4 linked regions of the Homo sapiens genome follow. The protein of the gene in region 4 purifies or fractionates together with the protein of the main gene of each other region. This does not show direct contact. Each region holds a gene or a part of one and is shown on either strand. Other genes may lie near its edges. The genes, in order: B3GALNT2, ARL10, TMED2 and CHST8.

Region 1 (8,353 bases), on a different chromosome or scaffold from region 4:
TTCCATTAGATACTGTGAGCACCTTGGGAGAAGGGACTAGGCATCCAGCACAGAATCTAACACTCAAGTACTTGTTGAGTGAATATGCTCCTTTGTTTTGGTTTCTTTCTTTCCAGATACCCTAGAAAGCGAAGCCTTCTTTTGTCACATCATTTTTCTAAATTAACCGTTAAATAATTCCTACTTAAGGCATTACCCAAAACGAGCATTTTGTAATCAAGATATCCTATGTTTAGATTCCTTAGTCCGATGGTTATCTCCACCTGCATTTTCCTCTGTCACCCTCAGGTGTACTGGATTTCACTTCCTCTTTACCAGTTGCTTTCCCTGACTGGTTTAAGGGAACCTATCACATTAAAAAAGTTGCTGACTCTGGTACTAAGGTGACTCACTTACTTCATTCTGGTCCCTGCTCAACTGTTACCTCTTCAGAATGGAATGGACTTCCCTGACCTATTTAAAACCATCTCTTTAATCTCTTAACACTGCTTTATCTTTTTTCCCTATACTTATCACTACCGCTGTGATATTTATAATTATTTCCTGATGCTCTGTCTTCCCTTCTAAATTGTAAACTACATGAGGGCAGGAAGTTTAGCTTGATTACTGCTGTAATTCCACACCTACGATAGGAGCTGGCACAGAGTAGGCTCTCAAATATTTGCTGAATCAACTGCGAGCCAAAGAACCTTTTTTAATATTCAGGGAAGGTAAATCGCTCTTTCAAAAAAAACAAAGAAACTGCCATTACTTAATGAGACTGAAGACAGACAAAGCAGCAGAAGAGAAAAAAAAATACATTTAAAAATGTTAATTCAAGAAAAGAATACTTAGCAAAATCTTGGGTTTTTTTTTCTCCTGTTAGGCTTAAAGTACAAGGGTTAAAATGTAAAAACACCCAACTATTTTAGTTTCAACATGGTGACAGCACAATGGTAAAGGAATTATGGGAAATTTTAGCATTTAAGATGCTTCCACTGCTTTTAGCTTTGAAAGTACCAAAAGGAAAAAAGGAAAGGTAGGAGTCAGTCTTGTTTAATTAATTAATTAATTATTTTGAGATGGACTTTCGCTCTTGTCACCCAGGCTGGAGTGCAGTGGCGCAATCTCGTCTCACTGCAACCTCCGCCTCCGAGGTTCAAGTGATTCTCCTGCCTCAGCCTCCTTAGTAGCTGGGATTACAGGCATGCACCACTATGCCCGGCTAATTTTTGTATTTTTAGTAGAGACGGGGTTTCGCCATGTTGGCCAGGCTGGTCTTGAACTCCTGACCTCAGGTGATCCACCCACCACGGCCTCCCAAAGTGTTGGGATTACAGGCGTGAGGCACCGCGCCGGGCCAGTCATGTTTAACTTAGATTATTAAAATATCGATGGTTGACAGCTGCAGCAAACCACCATGGCACACGTTTACCTATGTAACAAACTTGCACGTCCTGCACACGTATCCCGGAACTTAAAAAAAAATCCCATTTATTATCTGACCAGATACACAGTACTCATTCAAAGCCAAAGTTAATTAACATAACTAGTATTGATCTTCTTACCTACGTTATTACCCTGTTCCTTTCTATGGTCTACTTCTTCATTTCCTTAATCTAGCCTGGTCTAACTACTGGATGGCAGATAAAGGCATCATCCTTCAAGTGCAGTAAGGGAGTAGGAAAAACTTGTCTCAAACTAGAAAACTGCCTAGCAAGTCTACTAAGATTTCAGTTTGAAGTCTACTAACATTTCAGTTTTTGTTTGTTTTACTGAACCCTAAACAACCATTAAGGCCATAAACAGACTTAATGACGCTCTACAAGGAGATTCCAGCAGGGCTCACTCATAACAAAAGAGAGAAACCTGTAACACACAAGCAGCTGTTACAAAGCATTTTTTATATATGGCGTTCTCTTCTTAGTTCACTTCACAAAAACCTAAAAAACACTGAGCAAAACCCTGACCCCATCAACTGGTTAAGTGCATAGCAACACTGTACTTTCATTAAATCACTTAAATAGTGTTTAATTCTATTCAGGTCACACAAATCCTTTTCAAAGAGCTAGTGATCTAATAGGAAAAGAGATTGTTACCAAAATAACCTCAACATAATTTCATATAACTGAGACTGTTTTGAGGATTGCCGAATACTTTCTACTTATAAGGCATAGAGTGCTGAACTGCAAACACTCAATTCTAATTTTAAGAACTTTTGGATTAGAAAACAGCTGTTTTGGGGAGAGATGGTAAGGGAAAAAAGTCCCAGTATAGTTACAAAATTAAGTATTACATAATATTTAAAAGAGCTTTCTAGGTTTCTTTCATGTTCTAGGGCAAGCCCTTAAAGAAGAAGACAAGAGATACAGGGAAAGCTAAAGTAGTGTTCAGGGTGGTGGAACCCACTAACAAAACAATCCGCTGGGCACCGTAAGTAAAGCATTCTATTAGGCTGTGACGCGAAACAAGAACAAAGGTTTCATTCCTACGAGAGATTAAGTTTTAGAGCAAATGGACACGATCGTTAAAGAATTTGATATTTCCATGTAAACTGCATTAGCAGGTTATGCGATCCAAACTCACAGGAACAACTCCAACTCTCGGCCATGCCCTATTTCATGTCTAGATTTGTTTAACCGACTTACATCATAATCCAAGAATACGAACTACAGTATATTCTTACAGCAAAGTTATTCCTTAAAAGCAAAACCGAGCCACCTTTGAAAACACGCACACACATTATCCACGGCACTAAAACCCCAGTCTTGACCGAGAAAGACCAACAACTTGGGGGGGAAGAAAACAACTTCAGAGCCAGAGCTCCCAAAGCAGAAAGCGCTGGCGGCTGAAGGGCACACGAGGTTCCGCTCCCGGGCGAACGGGCGGCGTCGGACATCACTAACCAGGCCTGGGGACAGGCGAAGGACTTGCAACTGCGGGCGCCGGCTCTGCGGGCGTTAAGGGAAACGGGGAAGTGAGAAGAGGCGGGGACACGAAAAGAGAAAAGCTCCCTCAAGTTTGCCCGATGTTAACGCTCCAAGGATGAAAAGAGCCGTTTGTTTCGTCTGGGGACCGTCGCGTTTGGCCCTTCCCCCGCCTCCAACAATTCCCGGCGAAGCCCCGCGGCACCAAGCCGGGCCTCCCACCCCCCCGGCGGCCGCCAACCCGCCCGGCCCCAGGACCTCACCTGCAGGGCCGGCCCCGGAGGCGCAGGCGGGCGGCGGGGAGCGCAGCCGCAGCCAGAGGTGCAGCGCGGCCCCGAGCACACACGGGCACAGCAGCACCAGCCAGTTTCGCATTGGCCGCCCCCGCCGCGAGCCGGGCTCTCCCGCGTCCCGGCGGAGAGGGAGGGGACCTGCAAGTGCGGAGACTGAGGGGCGGCGGCTGACGAGCGACCACTCCGAGCACGCCCGCCCTCGCGCTCGGCGACGTCTGGGGGGCTCCTCGCAGCTCCCGGCCCCGCTCCTCCGGTCCCTCAGACCGCGGGTGGCCGCGGCTTAGCCGGCCGAAGCCCCGCCCCCTCCGCCTGGCCTTCCCACCGGCTCCGCCCACCTTTTCTCCCACTCGCCCCGCCCTCTCCTCCCGCGTTTCCACACGCGCCAGCCAGCCGGCCGGGAGCTGAAGTCCCGCTCTGGGCCCAGGCAGGGGGCGCCCGCGGTTTAGAAACCACATTTCCCATGAGCCTAAGCACGCGCTTCCGTCACTCGGCGGCCGCGGGGGCGAAGGGCGAGGCCCCACACAGAGCATGCGCATCCCCCTTGACGTTTGCTGCCACCCCACGGCCCAGGGGAGGTAGTGCCGGAGACCCGGTGCTCGGAGGCTGCCCGGAGCCGCGAAGGGAAATGCGCTTTGCCTCAGATTTGAAGGAAATCCGAGTGGCTCTTGTGTGAAATCACGCAGAGCTCCTTTGTTCCGCGTGCTCTCTTGCTCGACTGCTGTGGGAGGTGGGATCCTGCTGACGTCTCCTTGGCCCGTAGAGTGGGGCGAGGAAGCCCGAGTGTCCGCGCCTGGAGCGGTGACTCATCAGGGATTAGCTCTGGTGCCGTGGGTTCCCGGCTCTTTGCCCGGTTCTGTGCTCTGGGAACGCAGGGTGACAGACAGCGAGCTGGGGACTAGGCTGTGGAACACGATGATGACGAGCCAATCAGGGTAGAACTGCACGTGCTCCGGGTTCATACTGGAGCTGGGAGCGAAACGGGAGCCGGGCGAGCTGGGAGAACGTGGGCTCCGGGGACCTGGGGAAGGGTGGCCGCAGCGAGCCTTCCAGGGAGAACGCCGGCCCCGCGTCTTGAGGCTTTGCCCCGGGTGGGAGCCCTCCTGGCCCACCAGGCCCGCGCCGAGGCAGCCGGAAAGCGGGGACGGGGCGGTGAAGGCACTGGGGTGAGGATGGGAGAGAAGGATGAGAACGAGCGGCTGGGCTATGGGGCGGTTTTTGTTTCTGCTTTTGTTTTTGAGACGGAGTCTCACTCTGTCACCCAAGCTGTAGTGCAATGGCGCGATCTCGGCTCGCTGCAACCTCCGCCTCCTGGGTTCAAGCGATTCTCCTGCCTCAGCCTCCTGAGTGGCTGGGATTACAGGCGCCCGCCACTGCGCCCAGCTAATTTTTGTATTTTTTTTGTAGAGACGAGGTTTCGCCATGTTGGCCAGGCTGGTCTCCAGCTCCTGACCTCAGGTGATCCGCCCGCCTCGGCCTCCCAAAATGCTTGGATTACAGGCGTGAGCCACCGCGCTCGGCCGCGGTTTTTTTTTTTTTTTTTTTAAGTTTCCACAAGTGTGGAAACAGAAGGTGACTGTATTATTGAAAAAAAGTCTTGGATGACAGAAGACCCAACTCAAACAGGCTTAAGGGAAAAAAGTACTTTGGCTCGCCGTGGCTCATGCGTGTAATCCCAGCACTTTGGGAGGCCGAGGTGGGCGGATCACTTGAGGGCAGGAGTTCGAGACTAGCCTGGGTAACATGGTGAAACCCTGTCTCTACTAAAAATACAAAAATTAGTCTGGCGTAGTGGTGGGCACCTGTAGTCCCAGCTACTCAGGAGGCTGAGGCAGGAGGATCGCTTGAACCCAGGAGGCGGAGGTTGCAGTGAGCCGAGATCGCGCCATTGCACTCCAGCCTGGGTGACAGAACGAGACTCTGTCTCAAAAACAAACAAACAAACAAAAAAAAAATAAAAAGAAAAGGCAAGAAAGTAATAATTGGTTGCCAGAAAAAGTATACTATTTTTATCCTCAGGAAAGGTAGTAAATGGCCTCTGTTGATATTGTAAAATTTTCATTTTGTGAATTAGAATGAGTTATCCTAAAAAGAGGACTAATCCCTCATTTCAGCAGAGCTAGTCATTCGACAAATACTTATTGAGTGTCTATTATGTACCAGACACTTTTGTAGGTACTTTAGATACACCAGTGAACAAAATAAAGATCCCTATCCTGTGTTGATGGGGAGTAGGGCGCAGACTATAGACATAATAAAGAAATATACTCAACCAGCATGTTAGAAGGTTATTCCTGCTCTGGAAAATATAACAATTAGGGCCGGGTAGGGGAATTGTGAGTGTGGGATTGAAATGACACAGATTGCAGTATCAACTAGCAGTATTTAAACAACTGTTCAAAGTTACAATGAGCACTAAAGGGAAGAATAAACATAAGTCATCCGAATATATTAAATAATCAAGGTGTTGTTTCACTTAACAACCTAGAGGGGAAGTTTTTCACTGGCTCTCTGACAAGCTTGTAACAAAAATAGTTTTGAATAACTTTGTAACATCCTTCAAATCACATCAGAGTGGGAGCTGTCTATAGTACTTGTTCATAGGACCAGTGACCTTTCCACTTACCTGTTTTCTACTGTCCCCTAATAATCTCATGACTAAAGTGAGTGAAGATTGCAAGACAGTAATTCCTGTAATCCCAGCACTTTAGGAGGCTGAGGTGGGAGGATCACTTGAGTCCAGGAGTTCAAGACCAGCCTGGGCAACATAGCAAGACCTCGTCTCTACAAAAAATTAACAATTAGCTGGGCATGGTGGTATACGCCTATAGTTCCAGCTACTCGGGAGGCTGAGGCAGGATGATCACTTAAGCCCCAGAGTTCAAGGTTAGAGTGAGCTATGATCACACCACAGGACTCAGTCTGGGTGACAGAGTGGGACCTTGTTTCTAAAAAAAAAAAAAAAAGGTAAAAGTGACAGTATGTGTAATGGAAAGAATAAAAAAACTCAGTAGTGATATAAACAGTCTGTGCACTCAAGGGGCTCATAGGGTAAGTAGGAACAAGTTAACAGAATTAGAATTAGGGAGAGACAAACTAGGGTGGTTGGTAACCATGATGGCAATTCAATGTGATAAGTGCTCTGAGAAAGGAATGCACAGGATGTTAGAGCAGCACAAAGCAGGGGGTACAGCTGTCTCTACTCATGGGGGATTGGTTCTGGACCTTCTATGGATACCAAAATTCATGGATGCTCAAGTCCCTTATATAAAATGGTATAATATTTGCATATAACATACACACATCCTCTCATATACGCGAAATCATCTCTAAATTACTTATAACACCTAATATGATGTCTACGCATCACTTCATTCACGTGGATTCAATGGCATGCGCAAATTCAAGTTTGCTTTTTTCCTGAATTTGAGGTTGGTTGAATTCATAGATGCAGTACCCAGGGATATGGAGGGCCAACTATATTTAACTCTACTCAAGGGTCCCCAGAGGAGGCTATCTCTTGAAAATACAGGGCCGGGGCTTGAAGTCAAAGTGGCCAGTTAACAGGGCCAGAAAGTAGGAAGGACATTCAAGAGCACTGTAGGCAAAAAAATAAAAAATAAAATAAATAAACCTGAGCTAGTGATGACACGGCAATTAGGGAAATGTAAGCAATTGGTATGACCTTAGTGCAAGTTAGGAACACGGCAATGATGAGAAGGTGAACAGAAGGCAGAGGCCAGGTTGTAATCATAAACTTTGCTAAGGAATTTGGACTTTATTGTGAAGGCTCTAAAGAAGAATTTTTTTTTCTGATTACCAATGTAATACATGATTATGAAAAGGATCTTGGAAAACAGAAGAATATAAGAAATCATACTACATACAATTCATACATTTTTTAAAAGTTTTTTCATTAAAAAAATTTGCCATTCATACTGTAAGTTAGAATTTATATCCAACTATTTTCACCTAACCTATAAGCCTTCCCATATTTAATTAGTAGTCTCAGAAAATATAACTTAATCATTTGTCCACACTATAATTTCTTATCTGGTCCCGTATTATTGGACATACAGGTTGTTTCCATTATTCCACTATAATAAGTAATACTGGCACTTCTGTGCACAAAACTTTTTCCACATTTCAGATAATTTCCTTTTCTGATATTATTTTTAAGCCGCTTTATTCATACTGCTATTGTTTCAATGTGTATGTCTGCCTTCAATATGTTTCTCTTATCTCACCCTCATATTTTAAAAAAGTTCTTTATTAATTCAAAGGACAAAACTTTTCATCAATGAGATTGAATATTCTTATGTTCGTTAGCTGTTTCTATTTCTTTTGTTAATTAGTCATGTATCTTCCTTTTATCCATTTGTATAAGCCCTTTATTTTTCCTCAGTTTTCTTGCCTTCTAATTTTATAACTTTTAGGACACAAAAACACTTTAAATTTTTATAAATTCAAATGATCAATATTTAATTTTTTTCCATATTTTAGGATGATTCTGATCGTGAGATCTGGTCAATATTCTTGTTTGTTTTATTTAATGTTTTAATCCATTTGGAATTTATTTAGGAATATGGTGTAATGCAAGGATCTCAAAATTAATTAATTTTTTTCATATAGCTAACTATTGTCCTGGCCCATTATTTCCCTATTAGTTTATGACATCACCTCAATTTATTAAAAATTTTTAACATAATAGTATTTGTTTCCAAGCCACAGTTTTGCATTCATCTGTCCTTTCATCAGTACCGTAATACTCTAATGATCCTAGTTGTATAATATTTTGTAATCCAGAGGGCAATTCTCCCTCTCAATACTCTTTATTTCTCACATATATATATATATTTTTTTTTTTTTTTGAGACAGAATTTCGCTCTGTCATCCAGGTCTGGGCTCACTGCAACCTCTGCCTCCCAGTTTCAGGCAATTGTCTTGGCTCAGCTTTTCGAGTAGCTGGGACTACAGGAGCGCACCACCACAGCAGGCTAATTTTTGTATTTTTGTAGAGACAGGGTTTTGCCATGTTGGCCAGGCTGGTCTTGAACTCCTGACCTCAGGTGATCCACCCGCGTTGGCATCCCAAAGTGCTGGGATTACTGGCGTGAGCCCGGCCTATTTCTAATGAATTTTATAATAATTTGTATA
Region 2 (7,788 bases), on a different chromosome or scaffold from region 4:
GTGGAGTTCCTGCGGACTCACTTTTGGCGGCAGTGAGGTGCCAACTGTATGGAAATTAAAGTTAATGCTAAATTGAAAAGAATTTTGTAGCACAGAGATTCGCACAGGTAGAAGCCACAGATGGATGGATGGATGGATGGATGGGTGGATGATGGATGGATGGATGGATGGATGGATGGATGGATGGATGGATGGATGGGTGGATGGATGGATGGGTGGATGGGTGGATGGATGGAAGGATGGATGGATGGATGGATGGATGGGTGGATGGGTGGATGAGTGGATGGATGGATGGATGGGTGGATGGGTGGGTGGGTGGGTGGATGGATGGGTGGGTGGGTGGATGGGTGGACGGGTGGACGGGTGGACGGATGGAGGGATGGATGGATGGATGGATGGATGGATGGATGAGGCCACCTGTGTTCAACAAAAACACGTAATGGAACTTCATGCAGCTTTAGATTTCCTTTGCCCAGCTAGGAGCTTGTGTATGGTGCTGAACAAAACTGAACGCTGTGCTTATCTTTCCTGATTCTACTACTATGGAGAGCTTCAAAAGGCGGTGGTGGCTGCCGCTTCTGTAGATACTGCCACCAAACACATCAAGGATATTTCTCAGGGAAAAGGAACACATAATGTGTTTGCAGGAGCAGCTAGTGGTTGGTTTGCAGGCATCCTGAATGGTAGACAGCAAGCTTAGCTGTTCAAGGTTTTCTAATCTTCATGTTTCTTTTAGTGGGTATCCCAATCACCATGACTTGTGTTACCAAAAGCTAACTAAAAAATCAAACACTTTACAATTAAGGTACTTCATAGTGAACTATGTCCTTAATTGCCATTATACCCTGAACAGGCTATGAGCAGCAGAGCTTGCACGCTGTTGAACTATTTTTATCGTCTGAACTTGAGTTGTTTGATTCCAATCAGTTTGGTTTGTGGAGACTCATATTAAGGGATGCATTCCAGTTTCTTGGTATTACACTCCTGATAGCCATCCTAAGGTCCCCACTGATGTGTTGTAGTCTTAAGTACACCAATGCAGTCATCCTTTGTACCTCAAATGGTCTCATTACGGTTAGAGTAACAGAAACATGAAGACATACAGAATCCGCTAACTGATTTAACATTGTAAACTGTGAGTTCCATAATGAGGTCAAATAGTGACAGAAGGTAGTGTCAGTGCGTGGGATTTTGGTCAATCTCTCAAAATTAAGGGGCTGAGCAAAATGAGGGACACTGTGAAGCTGAATTAAGTCTGGCCTAAAGCTGCCTCTGTACACAGTGAATTGTAACTTAACGTGTAAACAACTCGTAACCTAACCTAAAAGTATGTTCTTCTAACAAGTAGCCGAATTTTAGCCAATCACAGCAGCCAAACCTTCAGTCAATCGTCGGCTGAAGGCTGCTAAAACATGTTCAGGTAAGGCAAATGCCAGACTGCAGCCAATCAGGCAACCTAAGTTATTTTCGTTTCTCTGGCTATAAATGTAGCCTACACACATTGTGGGGCTGAGCATTCTGAACTGCTTTTGGTGCTAAGTACTAACCAGTTCACGAATCTTTTTTCTGCTCAAAAACAGAACATACTTTTTAAACTTCGTTAAAGTTGTCTAAGGTTTTTTTGCCTTCAAGCCCTGAAGAACAAGGAGTTCATAGAACAAAGGAGAAAAGTCTCTTAGCCTTCCAATGACAAAATGAAAAGCTGCCAGCAAAGTTTCAAAGGCTACTCTGAAACCCAAGTCATTCTTAAAATTTTACATAAAAGCCCATAAATCACTTCTTACTGCAGAAAGTGAACCAGCACTTTCAAGAACAGTGATTCTTCAAATGGCGCCCAAGGGCACAGCAGCCACTATTCCAAAGATCACACTCGCTTCTGGACTTCAGAATTTCCCACCCTCCTTGCGGCTTGTTGAACTGTTTTTATCATAGTTCCTCTTCTTACACTGGTCACGGTGTGGAACTGAGGCATGCTGGGTAAATGTCAAATGAAATGAAGGCACACAATCTCTATTCTCAACTAGACAGCAAATTGAGGTGCACAGCTCCTCTTAAAAAAAAAATCCATTTGTGGTTGTTGATTTAGTGGTCCCTAACAGACAACAGGCTCCTCTTTGCCTGTACCGATAATAAGTGTCAGTACAGAGCCAGTCCTTCAATTGGGCTGATCGCCAAGCACTGGAGAACTATGGAATGTGCACTGATGAGAACTCCAGAAATTCAGTCCAACTTGGCTTTCACTGGGGAAAAATTGGGTCCAGAAAGGCTGAGTGATGTACCCAAGGCCATCCCGTTGGCTGGTCTGCTATTCCTGTCCTTAGGATCACATAATACAATTTTTTTCCATCTTTTTACCTAGATTCACATAAGGGAAATCCTCTCCCAGAGTCATTTCTTATCTACCCAGAAGGAATTTGCACCCTTTCAACATCCTGGGCCAAGTGGTGGCGTTTCAGTTCATGTGAATCCATGTAAAGTACTATGATATCGACGACAGCCTCAAAGCCAGGTGGGAGGAGGAACCCACAACTTTGTCTCCACTGACATCTGTATGTTATCTCATTGTCATTCATGATTCCAGCTATTTTCCTAAGTTCCAAATTTTCTATGACTGTCATCTGGGGTTTTGAAAACAGCACCTAGAAACAGAGCCTAGAACTCTGGCCTGTTCTGCTTATAAATTAATAAATAAAATGCAGTTCTGAGGTCAACACCTAGCTCCAGTTGACTGTCGTCCCAGGGACACAGGCTCCTTCCTTCCCCTGACTTCTGTAAACATGGGCACTGGCACAGTTAGTACGAGAGCAGCAGCTTGTCTCCAGATTAGAGGGGAAAAACCCAGCCTTCACTTTTTCTGTTTGGTGGGTGAATATCAGTTATTCTGTAGTCAAGAGAGGCTGGCAGGCCAGGCCTGGGCTCAGGGAAAGGCAGGGAGGTCTTCAGAAAGCTCCTTGCTAGGATGGCCAGGTTCATCCTAGCACTTCACACTCCCATGGCTGGGAAAGGCATCTCCGAATTAGGAAACCACCTCCCTTTAAAAATAATGGCCCTGGGGTCAGAGAGGCAGAGATTGCACAAGGCCACAAGTCACTTAGGTGGAGCTGGGGCTGGACAATGCAGGACAGGAACAAAGGCTTGCTGTGTCACCACTCAGAAGCTGCCCACATGAGAAGGGCATGACGTCACCAGACTGTTTCTGGACTGGGAGACCTTGAGGCTCTAGGAGTATTTCTGACACCTACACTGGTTCCTCAGGTACCGGGACCTGTAGTGGAGGATTGAGCCCACTGAGCATCTCACTGTACAGGTAAGAGAAGGGAAAGCTGGATCCACATTCCAGCCTGGAATGAGCCAGACACTATCCTCCCCACCCTCTGTCTCACCCACCTCCCTGCTTCGGCTTCACGGCCACCTCACCAGGAAGGCTTCTGCATGGTTCTTGGCCTTGCCCAGGCCCTGCTCTTGAAAGGCAAAGGAGGGGAAAAGGGAAATGCTGCCATGTGGCTCTTGCCCCAGGCCCAGTCTGGCAATGAAGCAGCAGCAGTACAACTATGGTCTTGACAGGCAGGTGGCAAGCAGGAGAGCTCCAGCCTAGGAGAGGAGCTCCAAGAGCAGTTTCCAGATGTGCACGGTGCCAGGCTCTTCAAAGGTGGGTCCTGCAGGGGCAATGCTGGCTGCCAAGAGGAAAACCTCCCGCTGGTTATCGATAGCCTGTAGACCCAGCTCCCGCTGCAGCTCCCCCATACTCATGGCCTCGCTCAGGTCCTGGGTGAGACACAGAAGTCCGAACACAGCTGGCAGCATTTCCTAACACACTGACACCCTTGTCGTTCATGAAACACACTGTTCTTAGGCTATCCCCGGGAATATCAGGAAACACACTGTTCTTAGGCTATCCCCGGGAATATCAGGAAACACACTGTTCTTAGGCTATCCCCGGGAATATCAGGAAACACACTGTTCTTAGGCTATCCCCGGGAATATCAGGCCCCAAGTTCCCAGAAGTAGCCTCTGGACCCCTTGGCCTAAACTCAATGCTCTCTCCCTCACCCTGGGCTCTCCTTTGTACCAACCTCTTTTCATTGCATCATTAGCCACTGTTTTGAGACGGAGTTTTGCTCTGTCACCCAGGCTGGAGTGCAGTGGCACGATCTTGGCTCACTGCAACCTCCACCTCCTGTGGTGGAATCCTGAAGCGATTCTCCTGCTTCAGCCTCCCTAGTAGCTGGGACTACAGGTGTGAGCCACCACGCCTGGCTAATTTTTGTATTTTTAGTAGAGACGGGGTTTCGCCGTGCTGGCCAGGCTGGTCTCGAACTCCTGACCTCAGGTGATCCACCTGCCTCAGCCTCCCAAAGTGCTGGGATTACAGGCATGAGCCACCACGCCCGGCTAGAAATAGAGCACTTCCTATGTGTCAAGCATTGTAGATAGGCCCGTATATACTTCAGCTTATTTAATGTTCACAGTCCACACTTAATTGATGAGAAAAGTAGCTCAGGGAGGTGACATCATTGAGCTAAGGTAACAGTGATAGGTGGTAGAGCCAGGTGCCAACTCAGGTTGGTTTGATAACCAAGTTTCCTAAACTCAGTCATGGAGAGATGATACAGTAGGATCACTTCCAGACAAGACCTCTAGAAACTAGCTGGAGGAAAACAAGGGACCACTACACAGCATGACTGGTGATGGTATGTTGTAATTTCAACCCTGGCCCAAGATTTAAATGATTCTTCCTGGAGCAATTCAGAGACTGCTGGGACCTTAGATGTTGTCTCCTACAGGTTCAAAACTGCTATAAATTAGTTTATAAATAGGACATGATGTGATTCCTGGTCCAAACTGGGGCAATCTGAGGCTCAGAGCGGGCACTATTAATAGTGCCAGAACAAGAGTCGTAAATGGGGACTGTCTTGGACAGAAAAGGACATACAGTCACCCTATTTATAAATAATTGTCAAATGTTTCCTAATAGGTTGGGGAATCTGAGGTCGAAGACATACAGTCTCTCTCCATGTCAAGTTGGAAACAGGTCCCACAGCTCTCAGAGGCACCTGAGTTTAGGCCACAGGAAATATGATCAGACTCTGTACTCTGGCAGTTTCACCTGATATTGAGAATGGGACCCAAGGTCTGTGATACTGAGGGTTCCTGGGCCCAAGGCGACTCTCTGGCACCCAAGAGAGGTACAGCACACTGGTTAAGAGGAGGAACTTTGAAGAATATCTGAGTTCAAGTTTGGGCTTTGCCACATGCCAGCTGCAACTCCAGGTATTTAGTGTAACAGCAGGGCCTATCACGAGGTATTTAGAGGGAAGTGAGGTCATGATTGTCAGGTGCTTACCACATGTATGGCACACCGTAAGCACACAATAAATGTTAGCTGTTATTTAACCTGTTCTACCTCTCATCAGTTACCAGCTTCAGCTCTCTGATCTAGAGCCAGAATTTGCAAGGGCATAGCAGAGTGGAAAAGGTACAGCTTTAGCATTACACGTCCCAATTCCACTATTTTTTTTTTTTTTTTTGAGATAGGGTCTCGCTGTGTCACCCAGGCTGGAGTGCAGTAGTGTGATCACAGCTCACTGCAGCCTCGACCTCCTGGGTTCAAGTGATCTTTCTGCCTCAGCCTCTAAAGTAGCTGGCACTATAGGCAGGCACCACCACACCCAGTTAATTTTTTGCATTTTTTTTGTAGAGACGGAGTTTCACCATGTTGCCCAGGCTGGTCTCGAACTCCTGGAATCAAATGATCCACCTTCCTTGGCCTCTCAAAGTGTTGGAGGTAGAGGTTTGAGCCACCACGCCTGGACCAATTCTATTACTCTCAAGATGTACAACCTTGGAAAGATTATAAGACTAGCCTGTCCCATCTATAAAATGGGAATAGCATCCCATACTTTATAGGGTCAACAGAAGCATAAGAAGAAATGTTATTCAAAACCACACCTGGGGGCCAGACACAGTGACTCATGCCTATAATTCCAGCACTTTGGGAAGCTGAGGCGGGCGGATCACTTGAGGTCAGGAGTTCAAGACCAGCCTGGCCAACATGGCAAAACTCCACCTCTACTAAAAATACAAAAATTGGCTGGGTGTGGTGGCACATACCTGTAATCCCAGCTACTCGGAAGGCTGAGGCACAAGAATTGCTTGAACCCGGGAGGTGGAGGTTGCAGTGAGCCGAGATCACACCACTGCATTCCAGCCTGGGCGACAGAACAAGACTCTGTCTCAAAAAAAAAACAAAAACAAAACACCATGCCTGGCATATAGGAGGCACTTAATAATTATTTTTCTCATCTCTCCAGAGTACGAGATGATAGGGAGGCAAAGAGGAAGGAAGACAGAGGCAGGGATCAGGACAGGGCATAGGTAGAAGAGGTGGGGGCAGCATCTCAGCCACCCTCTCCAGGCCATGGGCCCAGGCAGCGCTCCTTGCCCCTGCCCAAGCATCTCTGAGTGGATGTCACCTGGACCGAGCTGCCCTCTCACAGCCCTCACCTGCTTGTTGGCCACCACGACGACAGGCAGGTCAGGGTCCTTGTCCAGCAGCTTGTGCAGCTCCTGTCGGGCCCAGGGCAGCCGCAGTCGGTCAGCCGAGTCCACCACAAACACCAGCACATCCACCTCGCTCACAAACTCCTTCCAGTAGAAGCGCAGGTTCTGGCTGCCCCCAACTGAGGAGAGGCCAGGGGCCAGCTCAGAGCCTCCCGGGCCCCCGCTCACTGCCCACAGCCCCCACCCCACCCCGGGCCCCCGCTCACTGCCCACAGCCCCCACCCCACCCCGGGCCCCCGCTCACTGCCCACAGCCCCCACCCCACCCTGCTTCTAGCTTAGTGAGCTTCCACCAGCCGGGGGCAAGGAAAAGACCGCAGTTTCCGCAGCTACTCAGACTGGATTTAGCTCTAGCTCTGATAGGCGGGTCTCTTGGGGCAAGTCCCTAGCTTTAAGCACCAGTCTCCTCACTGAACTTTCCTAACGGGTTGTTGCAGTAAAACCCACAGGTACCACGTGCGATGTACCTTTCACGGGACTGACACACAGGTGCTCAGTAAATGGAAGTCTTCAGTTCTCTCCCCTGGGTTGTCTGGCTTTGCCTCTTGCTAATTCCTAGCTTTCTCCTACAGGTTCAAAACTGTCAGTGATGGCTGTGACAGGAGCCAGGAGTCCTATTGTCTAGAAAACTCAGGACCCCCTGCCCTGCCTATACACAGCCATTCTCCATTCAGTTTCCCCCATCCCCTTCTTTTCCCTTGGAAATGTCATATTTCATCCTATGAACACATGGTTGCCAACACAGTCCCCCAGCCTGGATCACCTTTCTTTTCCTCTCTGCTCCTCTGCACAGTCCCATTGGTCACCCCGCACCCTAGTGTTTCTGGCTATGTTTCTGACACTTGAGGATTCTAAGCTGTGAGAGTCAGAGGCACTTACCTCTGAATCCCCACAAAGCCCTCAGCACAATGCCTGGCACATAGCAGGCACTCAACAAATATTTACTGAGTGCTTGCTAGGTGCCAAGCACTGATCTGGGTGCTGCAGATACAGAGGTGAGCAAGGCAAGCAGGGGCCCTGCACCAAGGAGCTCCCTCCCTAACTGGGAAGGACATGGCAATGACATCAACACATTTCAAAAAGGAAAGAAATAAAACAGAAAAAAGGGAAAGTGGCTGAGGTGGAACAGGGGTTGGCCCTGGATTGGGTGGTCTGGGTAGGTCTCATCAAGGAAGTGGCATGTGAGCTGAGTGGGATGATGAGAAGGAGCCAGCCATGGGAAGAGGCA
Region 3 (5,695 bases), on a different chromosome or scaffold from region 4:
AATTTTTAGAGAAACCTGAGAGCAAAGGGGAAGTTTTCCCTTACACTCCCTTACATTCCACTTGGACTTTTGAAATCAACTTCTGTTACCTTCCTTTCTGTATCACTGAAACTCCTACCTTGATTTATGTTCCCTTCTTAGCATTTACCATTATCTCTTTCTCGCCACACACACACAAACACACACACACACACACAAAACTTATTAGGTTCATCTCTGCCACCAAAATGTAAAACCCACACTAATAGGGTCTTTTCTCTATCTTCTTTATCCCAAGGACTATCACTGTAGCACACAGCAATCACTCAAATATTTGTGGGATTGATAAATGGGAATACAACTCATGCAGACTGCAGTCATCTCAAATTAAGTAAAAGACAACAGCCTGAAGCCACATTTTCAGTGAAATGATCATCACATTCTCAAAACACCTTTGACAACTTTTATAAAATGGGACTTCGGCTAGGCACGGTGGCTCATGTCTGCAATCCCAACACTTTGGGAGGCTGAGGCAGGAGGATCACTTGAGCCCAGGAGAATGAGGCCAGCCTGGGCAACATACAGGAGACTCTGCCTCTACAAAAATAATTTTTTAATTAGCTAGGCGTGGTGGTGCATGCCTGTGGTCCCAGCTACTCGGGAGGCTGAGATGAGAGGATCACTTGAGAGGTTAAGGCTCCAGTGAGCCATGTTTGTGCCACTGCACTCCAGTCCAGGTAACAAAGCAAGACCCTGTCTTTAAAAAACAAAAAATGTAGTCCCAGCTACTTGGAGAGCTGAGGTGGTAGGATCACTTGAGCCCGGGAGGTTGAGGCTTCAGTGAGCAGAGATCAAGCCAACCTGGGAACAGAGTGAGATCCTGTCTCCAAAAAAAGAAAAGGTGGGAGACTTCACAGACAGTTCTGAAAGCAAAGGCACAGGGAAATTACATATCTGTGTGTGTCTTCTGGGCTCTACTACCTACTAGTTTTCTGACCTTAAGACCCTTTCCAAGCCTGTTTTCCTCCTCACTTCCAAAATGGTTTTACCCAAGGTAATGGCAGTTTTGAAGCATGAATAAGACAGACCAAGTAAAGTGCTTAGTACTAGATCGAGACATTACACAGTACTCAAGAAATGGTAGCTACTTTTATTACCAGCAGGCCGTTAGTTTCACAGAGGAAGAACAGTTTCTACAGGTGGTGATCTAGTCTCCGGTTCCACCTTTCACTCTTTTCTGTGGCCTTGGGCAAATCATTTAATCTGTCTTTGAAGCTATTTCCCACATTCATAAACTACGTGGGCAAGTGAAAATAATTCAACCCTTTTTTCCCAAATAGAAAAATACTTAAGATTTTAGCACTGATCCATCAGAGAAGCCACACTGGAAAACCTACGCAGAAACTAAAACTTGGTACCATTCACTATCCTCAAGTTTATAGAATTAAAAAGTAACAGACGTAATAGGTATAAATACTCAGAAAACATGAACATGTCTCATGTCAAATAAGAACAGAAAGTTGGTGTGTAAAAAATGTGGATTAGCTGTCAATATATAAAACACAGAATACTGTTTTTAAAAAGAATTGTTTATTTACCGAACCTGGGGCATATTAGATACAACCAATTTTAAATTTACATCTTTTAAATCAGTTTTGAAGTGTTTCACACACACAAAAAACTTGGCATGCAACAGTTGTCCTAAGGTGAAAGTCACCTCATTAATAAACTGTTGCAAGTGTTCTCACCCAAGGTGGAAGTATGGTTTATCCTGAACATGAAAACCTGTAACAAATTTAAATTAATTATATAAAACTCGTTACTTGTAGTTTTGCCCTTGCAAAGATCCAAAAAAAAAAAAAAAAGCACAAGTAACTAATATGTATCAGTCACAACATAATCCTGGATCATCCCCATACCAAAACCGGATGCTCTTTTAATTTTAAACCCATCATCAGAGAACAAGAGAAAGTAATTTCATTTTACACAAAACAAGATTCACATGTGCCAAAAAAGAAAGACCCAAAAGAAACAAAAACCAAAACCCTAATGCTGACACTGATGGTCAGTACCCTGAACAGTGGCCCAAAGGCCACTGATCAAAAATAAAATAGTGGCTGTATATCAATGAAATGAAATCCAAGAAGCTTTAACCCTTTGGCATCAGAAATCCAGATTTTTCCAATTATGTAAATGCTTATTTCTTACATGCCAAGAGTGGGAGAAGTGAATGTGCCAATGTGGAAAGAAAAAAAGCCACCACTCACTGGGACACCCAGAGAATTGGCTTTAACAGACAATTAGGGGGTTAGGCAGAAACCCAGAAATGGTTATTAGCTGCTTGTGTCATCAATTTAAGTGGAGATGACTGAGTCCTAAGGTACAATGTAAAAATGTATGTGGGAAAATGTATGCTGAGTCGTAGTTTTAAAGCAAAACAAGAAAACAAAGTATGAAAGTACCCAGCCTGGCAGCATACACCCAAGTCAGAGAGCTCTGCCATTAGGACGGGCAGAAACCGTCAAGATTCATACTGCTGTTTCTCATAAGGACTCAACAAAAATGAATCTTTAGTGACTTGAACCATAGACTGAAGGAATCCAAAGAATGCAGTCATTTTAGTAAAGTACTATCAGGCTTTGTGCTGATTTCCTGAACAAACTGCATTATATTATGAAAACAAAAGGAAAAGAAGAAATAATAAAAACTATACTCCCATATTTCACTTACAGTGTTTGAGTTCCTGGAAGGACCTATATAATGGAGGCAGCATTCAAACAAGAAATTATGCCAATCAACTGTCAAATTTTCACTATAATTTTCCTAAAAAGGCGTTTTTCCCCCAATATCTATTAATCTCAAAGAAACATAAGTTGTGAATGTACAGTTCAGAAAATAAAAATGGAGAAACTAATGACATTATTATGACCAAGGTGTTTGGTAAACAGTGAATTCTGAGTTGGGATCATCAGGAAGAGGCTTTTTAAACAACTCTCCGGACTTCAAAAAATCTCTTCAGGTAGTAGATCTGTCCCAATGTCATGGCAACTAGAACAAGAGCTTCAAAGAAGGACCAAAGGACCACTCTGCTGTTTGTGTTGTCGTTGACTGTTGAGGACAAAACAAACAAACAAAATTTAACAATTCTCCCCCAAAAAGACATAGGCATCATAAATATTTTAGTCTTCACTCTGTGTGAAAGTAATATTGTGTACACCACTCATAGAATAGATGTTCCTCAACTTACGATGGGGTTACATCCCAATAAACCCAGCTTATGTTGAAAATACATAAGTCAAAAATATATTTAATACACCTAACCTAGCAAACATCATAGCTTAGCCTAGCCTACGTAAAACACGATCAGAACACTTACATTAGCCTACAGTTGAGCAAAAGCATCTAACAACACAAAGATTATTTTATAATAAAGTGTTGTGTATCTCATACACGTTAAACTGCATTTTATTATTATTTTCTATTTTATTTATCAAGTTAGTGAACACTGCACTGAAAGTAAAAAACAGAATGGTTGCATGGGTACTTGATGCTCAGTTTCTTCTGAATGCACATCACTTTTGCACCATCATAAAGCTGAAAATTTCTAAGTGAAGTCATTGTAACCTATGGGTCACCTATACTCTAAATACTTTTGTCTCCAAGCAACTCAACATACTCCAAAGCAAAGACTTTTTTGTTTGCTCTGTTGCCCAGGCTGGAATGCCATGACACAATCATAGTTCACTGCAACCTTGAACTGTACTCAAGCAATCCTGCCACCTCAGCCTCCTGAGTAGCTGGGAGTACAGGTATGCACCAGCCCATTTGACTAATTTTTTCTGTTTTTGTAGAGAAAGGGTCTTGCTATGTTGCCCAAGTTGGTCTTGAACTCCTGGCCTCAACTGATCCTCCTGCCTCAGCCTCCCAAAGTAGAAGCAAAGATTTTTAAAAGAAACCTTAAAGATTCACTGGGTACAGCCAAGTCCATTCTGCTTGTATATGGGGAGCAGAGAAGAAAATGTGACTTGCCCAAGGTCATAATTCTAGGGTTAAAACCCAATACAACCATCTTTCTCCCTCACCATTGAAACGTCCTGTATTAGTATCCAATTTGCTGAATCAGAAAACTGACTTCTAAAAAAATTAAGGAATTATTTCAAAATCACAGTTATCCAAAATGCAATTATTTACAACATCAAAATATGGCAGTCTGAGTGTCTTTTTCCCCAAATATGTTACAAATATTTGTTGAGCACCTGTGTACTTGTCAATTGTTCTCAATGGAAGAGGTTACTCAGTTATATGGATCCATACTGACAGTTACTACCAGACCATCAAATACAAGACAAACTATGCTCATCTGTCCTGCTCTCAAACTAAGGATTTGATCCTTAAAGTAAAATCCACACCTACTCTATATTTACTATACTCTATTTGTTACATTCAAGTTTCTGATCAAATTCTTTTTATTTACTTACTTTTTTTTGAGTCAGAGTCTCACTGTCACCCAGGCTGGAGGGCAGTGGCGCAATCTCAGCTCACTGCAACCTCTGCCTCCTGGGTTCAAGTGATTCTCCTGTCTCAGACTCCTGAGTAGCTGGGATTACACGTGCACACCCCCATGCCTGGCTAATTTTTGTATTTTTAGTAGAGATAGGGCTTCACCATGTTGGTCAGGCTGGTCTTGAACTCTTAACCTCAGGTGATCTGCCTGCCTCGGCCTCCCAAAGTGCTGGGATTATAGGCATGAGCCACCACGCCTGGCCAAATTCTTTTTATTTTTAAATGTATTTTATTATTATTATTATTTTATTTTTTATGTTTTGAGACAGAGTTTCACTCTTGTTGCCCAGGCTGGAGTGCAATGACGCGATCTCAGCTCACTGCAACCTCCACCTCCTGGGTTCAAGCGATTCTCCTGCCTCAGCCTCCCAAGTAGCTGAGCTTACAGACATGTACCACCATACCTGACTAATTTTGTATTTTTAGTAGAGATGCGGTTTCTCCATGTTAGTCAGGCTGGTCTCGAACTCCCGACCTCAGGTGATCCACCCACCTCGGCCTCCCAAAGTGCTGGGATTATAGGCATGAGCCATCACGCCTGGCCAATTTATTTTATTTTTTTAAAAACGGTCTCGTGTTGCCCAGGTTGGTCTCAAGCTCCTGACCTCAAACAATCCTCCTGCCTCAGGCTCAGAAGCAGCTAAGACTACAGGCACAAGCCATTGTGTCCAACTCTCCAGTCAAATTCTATAGCCTTAGCTTTTAATTACTATGTAGGCTGGGCACAGTGGCTCATGCCTGTAATCCCAGCACTTTGTGAGGTCGAGGCGGGTGGATCACGAGGTCAGGAGATCGAGACCATCCTGGCTAACACAGTGAAACCCCGTCTCTACTAAAAATAAAAAAAATTACCCAGGCGTGGTGGCAGGCACCTGTAGTCCCAACTACTCGAGAGGCTGAGGCAGGAGAATGGCGTGAACCTGGGAGGCGGAGCTTGCAGTGAGCCGAGTTTGCACCACTGCACTCCTGCCTGGGCAACAGAGCGAGACTCCATCTCAAAAAAAAAAAAAAATTCTATGTAGTGTTTTATTTTTCTGCAAATAGCCAACATTAAAAACAATTACACTATAATCCCAGGACTTTGGGAGGCTGAGACAGGAGGACTGCTTTTGCTCAGGAGTCAGAGGCCAACCCTGGGCAATATGGAGAAACC
Region 4 (8,164 bases):
AAAACTATTGAAATTTTAAAAGTAGTAAATGAGTATTAAATATATGAAAAGTGCTTGTGATTGTGCCTGGCTCATCTCGAGGGCCTGAGAGCATTAGCTAGTATCAGTATTGTTGCTACTTCTGTGTCTGCCCCAGTGAGTGCTGGCACATTGTCTCAAACTAGACATCGTTTATTTGTAAGAATCATACCTAGCCAGTTGTGGTGGCTCACACCTGTAATCTCAGCACTTTGGGAGGCTGAGGCGGGAGATCACTTGAGCCCAGGAGTTTAAGACCAGTCTGGGCAACATGGTAAGATCCTGTCTGTATAAAAAATAAAATAAATAGCTGGGTGTAGTGGCGTCTGCCTGTGGTCTCAGCGGCTCAGGTAGGAGGATCACTCGAGCCCAGGAGGTCAAAGCTGCAGTGAGCTTTCATGGCAAGACTATACACCAGCCCGGGCCACAGAGCAAGACCCTGCCTCAAGAAGGGAAGGGAAGGGAACAGAAGGGGAAGGGAGGGGAGGGGAGGGGAAGGGAGGGAAGGGAAGGGAAATTATATGCATTAGAACATGTAAAGCTAGGCGTGGTGGCTTACGCCTGTAATCCCAACACTTTGGGAGGCCAAGGCAGGTAGATCGCCTGAAGCTCAGGAGTTCGAGACCAGCCCGGCCAACATGGTAAAACCCCGTCTCTACTAAAAAGATAAAAATTAGCTAGGTGTGGTGGTGGACAGCTGTAATCCCAGCTACTTGGGAGGTTGAGACATGAGAATCGCTTGAACCTGGGAGGCGGAAGTTGCAGTGAGCCAAGATCATGCCACTGCACTCCAGCCTGGGCTACAGAGCGAGACTCTGTCTCAAAAAAGTAAAGTTCTCAATACGAGGCCTGGCCCATGGTAAATGTTCAGTCAATATTCATTATTATCTTCATCGTTAAATTTCCCCATGCCCTGCAGGAGTGCCCCAAGACAGGCCACAGACCTAGGAGTCATCGGGGGCTGTCCAATCCCATTGTCTGTGCCAGGGGTCCCTGAGGGGGATCTTTGCTGTCCACCACAGCTGCCTCCCCACTGGGCACCCTAGAACCACCACCCACAACTCCTTGACTCCAGGAAAAGGCAAAGGGCTCTGAAACATGGGGTAGCCCCACTTAAAGAAAACTCACTCTGCAAAAGCCAAACATTAAAAGAACGAACTATTTACAGTGTGCCAGCAAGAGAATCTGTATGGTAACATTATATATATATATATATATATATATATATATATATATATATATATATATATGAATAAACTACAATAGAATCTGTATGGTAACATTGCATTTATATATATATATATATATATATATATATATATATATGAATAAACTACAACAGAATCTGTATGGTAACATTGTAGTTTTATATACATATCTATGAATAAACCAATCAATCCACACCACTCACTTTGGCTTCATGGGTCACTGACAATGACTCACCTTGCCCCATTAAAACAAAATCCATTCCACTTAAAAGAATGAAGAAGGAGTGATAAAATCAGAACATTGCCACTGTGTAACCCCTAATGAATGGCTGGATCTAGGCACGATCTCTGGCGGCTGATAACATAAGACAGCCAGGCAGACAGGAGCCTCCTGATGGAATAATACAGAACCACCCATGAATTCCTGTCCCCCAAAACTCCCCTAGAAGAAAACAAAAACCAATCCAAACCTGTATCTGATCAAGCTTCAAGATTCACCTAATTTATTGGGACAACAAAGAACAGAGAACAACGTGAATCCTTATCAGACAGGCCCAATCAGCCAAATCTCAATTTACAGAAAGTTCTATAGGAACCGTGACCTGGTTTCCTCAAATAAATAGTGAGAGAAGAATACAGATGGAGAAGGAAACTTACAGATTAAAGGAGACTTAAAAGACTCATCCACCAACTGCCATGTGAGGGCCTTTTCTGGATATTGGATGGAACAAATTGGAAATAAAGGTAATTATATTTGTGAGACAGACATTTGCACACTGACTGACTATTTGATGCTATTGAGGAATCATTAAATTTGATGTTATTAAGGAATGAGTTCAGTGGTGATGTCAATAAAACAGTTCTTATCTTTTAAACTGAGAAATATATTGAAATATTTATGGCTGAGGCTGGGCACGGTGGCTCTCACCTGTAATCCCAGCACTTTGGGAGGCCGAGGTGGGCAGATCACCTGAGGTTGGGGATTCGAGATCAGCCTGACCGACATGGAGAAACCCTGTCTCTACTAAAAATACAAAATTAGCCAGGGGTGGTGGTGCATGCCTGTAATCCCAGCTACTCGAGAGGCTGAGGCCGGAGAATTGCTTGAACTCAGGAGGTGGAGTTTGCGGTGGGCTGAGATCGCACCATTGCACTCCAGCCTGGGCAACAAGAACGAAACTCCATCTCAAAAAAAAAAAAAAAGAAAGAAAGAAAAAAGAAATAGTTATAGCTGAATTGATAGGATGTCTGGTATAGACTTCAAAAATCACATGAAAGGAGGGAAGTGGATGGTGCTATGGATGGGGCCAGCCTGGTGTTGGTGGGGGGTGCTGGGTGCCCGGTATGTGGTGTTCATGGCACTATCCTACTCCACTACTGCATGTGTTCCAAATTCGCTATGATAAAACATTCACAAAGAAAGCAGCTCGTAAAATTCAGTTTGCTCGACCAAATGTGGAGTCAGCCTTCTGCAGCCCCCAGAGCCAGTACATTGGGAATTTTTTGTTGTTTGAGACAAAGTCCGGCCCTGTCACCCAGGCTGGAGCGCAGTGGCACAATCAGCTCACTGCAGTCTCGACCTCCTGGGCTGAAAGGATCCTCCCACCTCAGCTTCCTAAGTTGCTGAGACTACAGGTGTGTACCGCTACACTCAGCTAATTTTATTTATTTTTTTTTGTAGAGACAGGGTCTTGCTATGTTGCCCAGGCTGGTCTAGAACTCCTAGGCTCAAGTGATTCTCCCACCCAGGCCTCCCAAAGTACTGAGATTACAGGCACGTGCCACCACACCTGGCCATTGGTGTTTGTTATTCCTGGTTCTGGCCTGGTCTCCAAGTCTTTCTCTTGGAGAAGAGGTAAGTCTTGTCTACTGGGTCAAAAAGTGAATTTCCTGAAAGCAGAAGCTCTGGCCTCAGGGCCTGGCAATCCTGGAGACTGGAAAAGAATTATAACTGGAGAAGTGAATTCTCTGTTACACAAAACTTCATCTTCGCATCGGATAGCTTACTGGGTAGCTCTTCCTGTTTCCAAAGATTTGATTTGGACTGTAGTAAAAAAAAAATGTTTAAAATGTGGTTTGATTTACAAAAGTCTGGCAACCCCCTACAATTCCATCTACTGCCTGAGCCAGGTGAGCTTGGCTGGCTGATCCATGTAAAGTTCAGGTGCTGTTAATATCCGGTGGCTGCGTGGGAGGGACGTGAATGAGGCCAGGCCCCAAGGGACCTCAAGCAACTCAGAATTCCCGCCACTCCCCATCCCCTTTCTACATTTGTTGTGCCACAAACTGCAGCTCCCAGAGAACTCCGTCCCCAGGACAGTTCATGCCATGGTATGGAATTTCCTCCGTAGATCCGCTCATCTCCACTCCCAGCCCTCCACCCCAACACCTGCCTGTTTGCCTGATCAGGATGGCAGGGCAACTCCCAGAATGTGTTCCTCCCACCAACAGAAATTCACAGGGAGAATTGTCAAGGGCCCTTGGGGCCACCCAGCCATGCAACTGGACACATACACTTTGTAAGCACTGGTTTCCAACAGATAAATGTAATCAAGGTTTATATGCTCAGAGAAGCCAACAGGATGGGATTGTTTCACTTGAAAGATCAGAAGAAAATGTAACTAATGTTGTGGAAAATTACTTTGATATTGCTTTCTTGGTACCGAATCACAATTAGGCTGCCGTGAGAAGTACAGGGAAGGAATAAATGAATAGTAACAAATCAACACAAACAGCCTGTGTCAGAGGCACTTTGCTCAGGGAAAGTAACGTAAGCATTACTTAAAGTTTTATGACTGTGTTTGGTGTGATTTACCCAGACCGTCAAGTCTGCCCATCACCTGGCACGTGGTGAGGGTGGTCTGGCTGCATGGACCATCAGAAGACCCACGTGTGCTCCTTGCCAGGTCTGCCAGCTGCAAAGGGATGATGGCCTCGGCTCCGTGCCATCTGACATCCCCTGCCAGCCTGAGGATCCGATCTTCCCAGAAATCCCAGCCGTCCCCTGGGTCCCCAGCCCACCTGTAATCCACACGTATGTGCACTCGGGAAGCTGGGCAGGGCAACAGGGACCTGCGCAGTGAGCACTCTTGCTGCGGCAGGGCAGGGCACTAGCTGAAGCCACCAAACCACAGTCCCATCCAGGAGTGTCCCACCGATGGGTCCAGGCCCTGGTCCCAGGTGGGCATCACAGGCACACTCATGCCTCCTCTCCCAGGCTCCTCCTGCAGAATGTGGGTACTGGCCGCCTGGACCCTCTGCCTACATGCACCCCCAACCACGCACACACCAAGGACACACCCAGTCAGCGTTTGCTCGCCCTTCTTCCTGACTGTGCTTCTATGCAGATAACACATGACCTTAGGTACCAGCTCGCTGTCTGCCCTGGTGGCGCTGTCCCGAGGGGCCCTGTTCTGCCAATGCAGTGTCATGAGCTGTTCTGGGGCTCATGTGAGGCTGCAAAGCTCCCACAGGAGAGCCGGCTCTGCTGCGCACCTGCTGCTCCAGACGCCTGGGAGCGGCCAGACCCACTTCTGACAGCCACCACCTGTGGGGGCCCGGCACAGGCGTGAGTCAGCACCGATGACTCGCCCACCATCTCCTGGAGGCCACCGCCTTGGCTGCCTCCCTCTGACTCTCAACTCATTCGCCTGCCCATGGGGAGCCTCTGGCAGCTGCCAGACCCAGGGCCCCAGCTCTGGCCTCCTTGTGCTCTTTTCACCTTCCTTCCTGGTGCCCACAGGCCCTCAATCTGCACTAAAGGCCACACATCATGGGTGCTCGTCCATAATGGGGGCGGAGCGGTTGCAGAGTAAGACCCCTTCCTGTGCTCTGGGCTTCCGGCAGGGATTTACGCAGCAACCCCTCTGCCTACACCTCTGGCCCCCTTCTCTTTCATCCTGTCTCTGGATCACAGCACTGAGCAAGCAAGAGAGAGTGAGTGGGTGTCCCTGCAGAGGAGCGGTGTCTCTGGGGGTGCACCAGCTTGTCCATGCCCTAGAGCATGTGGACTGTGAGTGTGTGGCTTCATGGAACTGCCCCTAACAGGGGCCACTGCTGAGACACCTCCCCTCCTCTCCCTCCAAAGCAGAGAGTTCCCAGGCCTTGGCACCCTGCCAGCTGACCTCCTGTCCTTCCATATCTCTGGGGATGGGGACCGTGTCCCGGCAGCAGAAACCTTGCCTGAACTCCCTCTCCACACTCCGTCTGCCCTGAGATGCCAGAATCACCCTTCCTGCTCTGGCCTCCCTGCCATCCCACCTGTTCCCAGCAGCCCTCTGTGACTCCAGTGGGCTACCAGGCAGGGGTGGAATGGAAGTAGCAGTGGGGGACCCTCGGAGGGGGTCTTGGCCTCACTAAACCAGGAGGTACCCTGACCCCCTTTGTCCAGACCAGAGAGGCTAGATTCCCCAGGGCTGGGCAGGGAAACTGAGTCTTGCTTGTGGGGCATGGGCTCAGGGAGAAGTTGTCTACTTTCTGATGTCCCTGACAATGTGGAAGAGGCCTGAGAGGTGGTGGAATCCTGTTTAAATCTGAGTTTCATCAAGGGCAACAACTGGCTCAATAGACAGCAGCCTTGCCATGACTCCCAAAAGGGGCCACCCTGCTGCTAGGCACTGGCTGGAGGTCTTGCATCAGACACAGCACTCCCACATTGAGACTAACGCCTTCCCCGGGAAGCCAGGACTCTGCCTGCCGGGGGTCTTGGCACAGACTTGCCCCTTTCCCCCAAGCCCAGCACACCAGGGCAGCTGTGGAGGCCTGAGCTTCAGGCTGGAAAGCTGGGGGCAGTGATGGCAGGACTCAGCGCAAGGACTCACCTGGCACCTGCTGGGGGGCGAGCTCCGTAGGGTCCTGCAGGCTGATGAAGAGGAGGAGGCCTGCAGCTCCGAACAGCAGGATGGAAGAGAACATGCAGGCCAGCCGCATTGTTCCAGGTCGCAGGGTCATCCGGGGCTGGCTCAGGGGTCACCTCTTGGGTGTGGGGGGCACGTTCTTCCCTCATCGTCCACACCAGGCGTCCATCAGGCCGAGATCTACGGGGCAGAGGAGGGATAGTCATCACCGAGGCGCGAGGCACCCGGGCAGGTGTAGGCCCTGCTCACTGCAGCAATCCAAGTGCAATCCCCGGATGACTCTGCCCTCTACAAGTTACCCAGGGGTGCCCTTTCCATCCTTTCACACCCAGGAGGCTGAGGGAAGCCTGTTCCCACCTGTGGCTGGAATGCTAGCTTTCCACCAGGGTCTCCTGTATCTGCACCTCTGGACAAATCATGGAATGAGACACCCTCTGGCCCTGCCTTGGGGAGCCCAGTTGGGAACCTCCAGGCCCCCAGTCAGTAACCAGCAGCCACCCCCTGCACTGTCCAGGCCTCCAAATAAGCATGCGTGCTCCCAGGGCGGGGGCCTAGGTACTGGCGGGAACCTGGGTCCTTGTCCCTGGTACCCGGCCCGGTGGGCAGAGAAGCTCTTGGATGTGCCTCCACCCTGCTTCTCTCTGTAGGGCACTGGGGACAAGGTCTCCATAGAGCAGGCAGCTCTGAAAAGGAGCCTGCTAGGCTCAAAGGATATTCAAGCACAGACGGACTCTCCTGTGACAGCCAGGGCTGTCCTCACTGATGGACTGACAGATGGGTTGGCGTATGTCAGTCCCTCTGGACAGTCACACCAGAGGGAGCTGAGGCTCTGGCCAGACCACTGGAGTCCCTGTGCTCGAGGCCCTTTGCCTGGAGTGGAGGTGGGGCAGCTAGACCTGTGTCCAACAGACTCCAAGCTCAGAGGCGCAGAGGCTGGGTACTAACACCCCCTCGTGTTCCTGGGGGTGGGCACTAACTGCTCCAGCCACTGCAGACCCAGAGTATACCCATGTGACTCACCCCTTACCCCGCTTCCTCCTAGAGGGCAGGGAGAGAAATTCCCCATCCCCCACATACCAGCCAGTCACGCCAACAGGGCCAGGCTGTGCATGGAGATGGGGGCACCCCAAGGCCATTTGCCCAAAGGAAGAATATAAGTTCCTGCAGTGGTGTGTAGAGAGGGCATGGGCAGAGTACAGGGGGAGAGAGCCACAGGCGGCAGGCACTCTAGGGACCCCCCAACCCCGCTTTGAAGGTCAGTCACTCTGTCCCCTTACTTTCCAGCGGGCCTTGCTGGCTAGGCCGAGAGGATCACCCTTTTTCCACCCAAGAGCGCTGGAGGGAACATCCCCACCCTGGCACAGGTCAGTGCCTGAGGGAGGTGAGGCCAGGTAGGCAGCTCCCAGTAGCCTCTGAGGCCACAGCTGGGTGGCTGTTTAAGCCCCAGGTCAAATATGCTGCTCGGCCCAAGGACATCTCCCTGCCCAGGGACAATACTTCAGCCGGGTGACTCCTCCCCAACACGGACCCAGGCACTGGGGAAAGAAGCCCCCACACCCAGTCCATGGAGCATGAGAGATGGGAAGAGGCACTCTCCCTGCTCCCCTGCCCACGACTCCCCACGACCAGATGGTTCTGAAAAGCTCAAGGGCTAGGGAGGGTAAATTGCAGGTTTGGGTTTCTCCCCTCTGCAGTTTCTATAATTATTTTTTCACTCAGTTAACTTTAATTAACCCGCCCCAGGCCTCTCCGCACCGGGAAGGCACCTGACGCTGGGCTATCTGGACTGTGCCGAGCAGTTGGTTCCTGCGGCCTTCCAGCTTTTTACAGAATCACTGAGCTGGGCCTGTTTTGTCTCTGGAGCTGGCTCCGGGGTGTCAGGCTGGCTCCGACCTCACTGCAATGGCCTCTGCCCTAAAGACAAACTGCTGCTTCCTGTCATCCACCGAGGCCACCCCTGCCTTGCCTGCAAAGAGTAGAAATGGACACTCATGTGTCCCCAAGGGCTCAGACTCAAAGCCCCTTGTGCGGGGCTGGGGCCTCTCTCTCCATGGCTGCCCTGGATGAGGCCATCCTGAGGAC

What was found.
Region 1: the proteins of CHST8 (region 4) and B3GALNT2 purify together in Homo sapiens (affinity purification with mass spectrometry; 4 studies listed by BioGRID and IntAct, with this or other methods). This does not show direct contact.
Region 2: the proteins of CHST8 (region 4) and ARL10 purify together in Homo sapiens (affinity purification with mass spectrometry; 4 studies listed by BioGRID and IntAct, with this or other methods). This does not show direct contact.
Region 3: the proteins of CHST8 (region 4) and TMED2 purify together in Homo sapiens (affinity purification with mass spectrometry; 4 studies listed by BioGRID and IntAct, with this or other methods). This does not show direct contact.

What each region holds. Positions count from the first base shown.
Region 1 is NC_000001.11:235,500,972-235,509,324, forward strand, and holds the start of B3GALNT2 (UDP-GalNAc:beta-1,3-N-acetylgalactosaminyltransferase 2), read right to left. Parts: upstream 3,482-8,353; 5' UTR 3,282-3,481; coding exon 3,170-3,281; intron 1-3,169. UniProt on the Homo sapiens protein: Beta-1,3-N-acetylgalactosaminyltransferase that synthesizes a unique carbohydrate structure, GalNAc-beta-1-3GlcNAc, on N- and O-glycans. Has no galactose nor galactosaminyl transferase activity toward any acceptor substrate.
Region 2 is NC_000005.10:176,367,699-176,375,486, reverse strand, and holds part of ARL10 (ADP-ribosylation factor-like protein 10), read right to left. Parts: intron 7,542-7,788; exon of another isoform or gene 7,456-7,541; intron 6,681-7,455; coding exon 6,505-6,680; coding exon of another isoform or gene 6,235-6,504; exon of another isoform or gene 5,531-6,234; intron 3,766-5,530; coding exon 3,592-3,765; 3' UTR 3,266-3,591; coding exon of another isoform or gene 3,239-3,265; 3' UTR 1-3,238.
Region 3 is NC_000012.12:123,593,997-123,599,691, reverse strand, and holds the end of TMED2 (transmembrane emp24 domain-containing protein 2 isoform 1 precursor), read right to left. Parts: intron 3,088-5,695; coding exon 2,963-3,087; 3' UTR 1,110-2,962; downstream 1-1,109. UniProt on the Homo sapiens protein: Involved in vesicular protein trafficking. Mainly functions in the early secretory pathway but also in post-Golgi membranes.
Region 4 is NC_000019.10:33,687,274-33,695,437, reverse strand, and holds part of CHST8 (carbohydrate sulfotransferase 8), read right to left. Parts: intron 8,161-8,164; exon of another isoform or gene 7,838-8,160; intron 6,263-7,837; 5' UTR 6,177-6,262; coding exon 6,047-6,176; intron 1-6,046. UniProt on the Homo sapiens protein: Catalyzes the transfer of sulfate to position 4 of non-reducing N-acetylgalactosamine (GalNAc) residues in both N-glycans and O-glycans.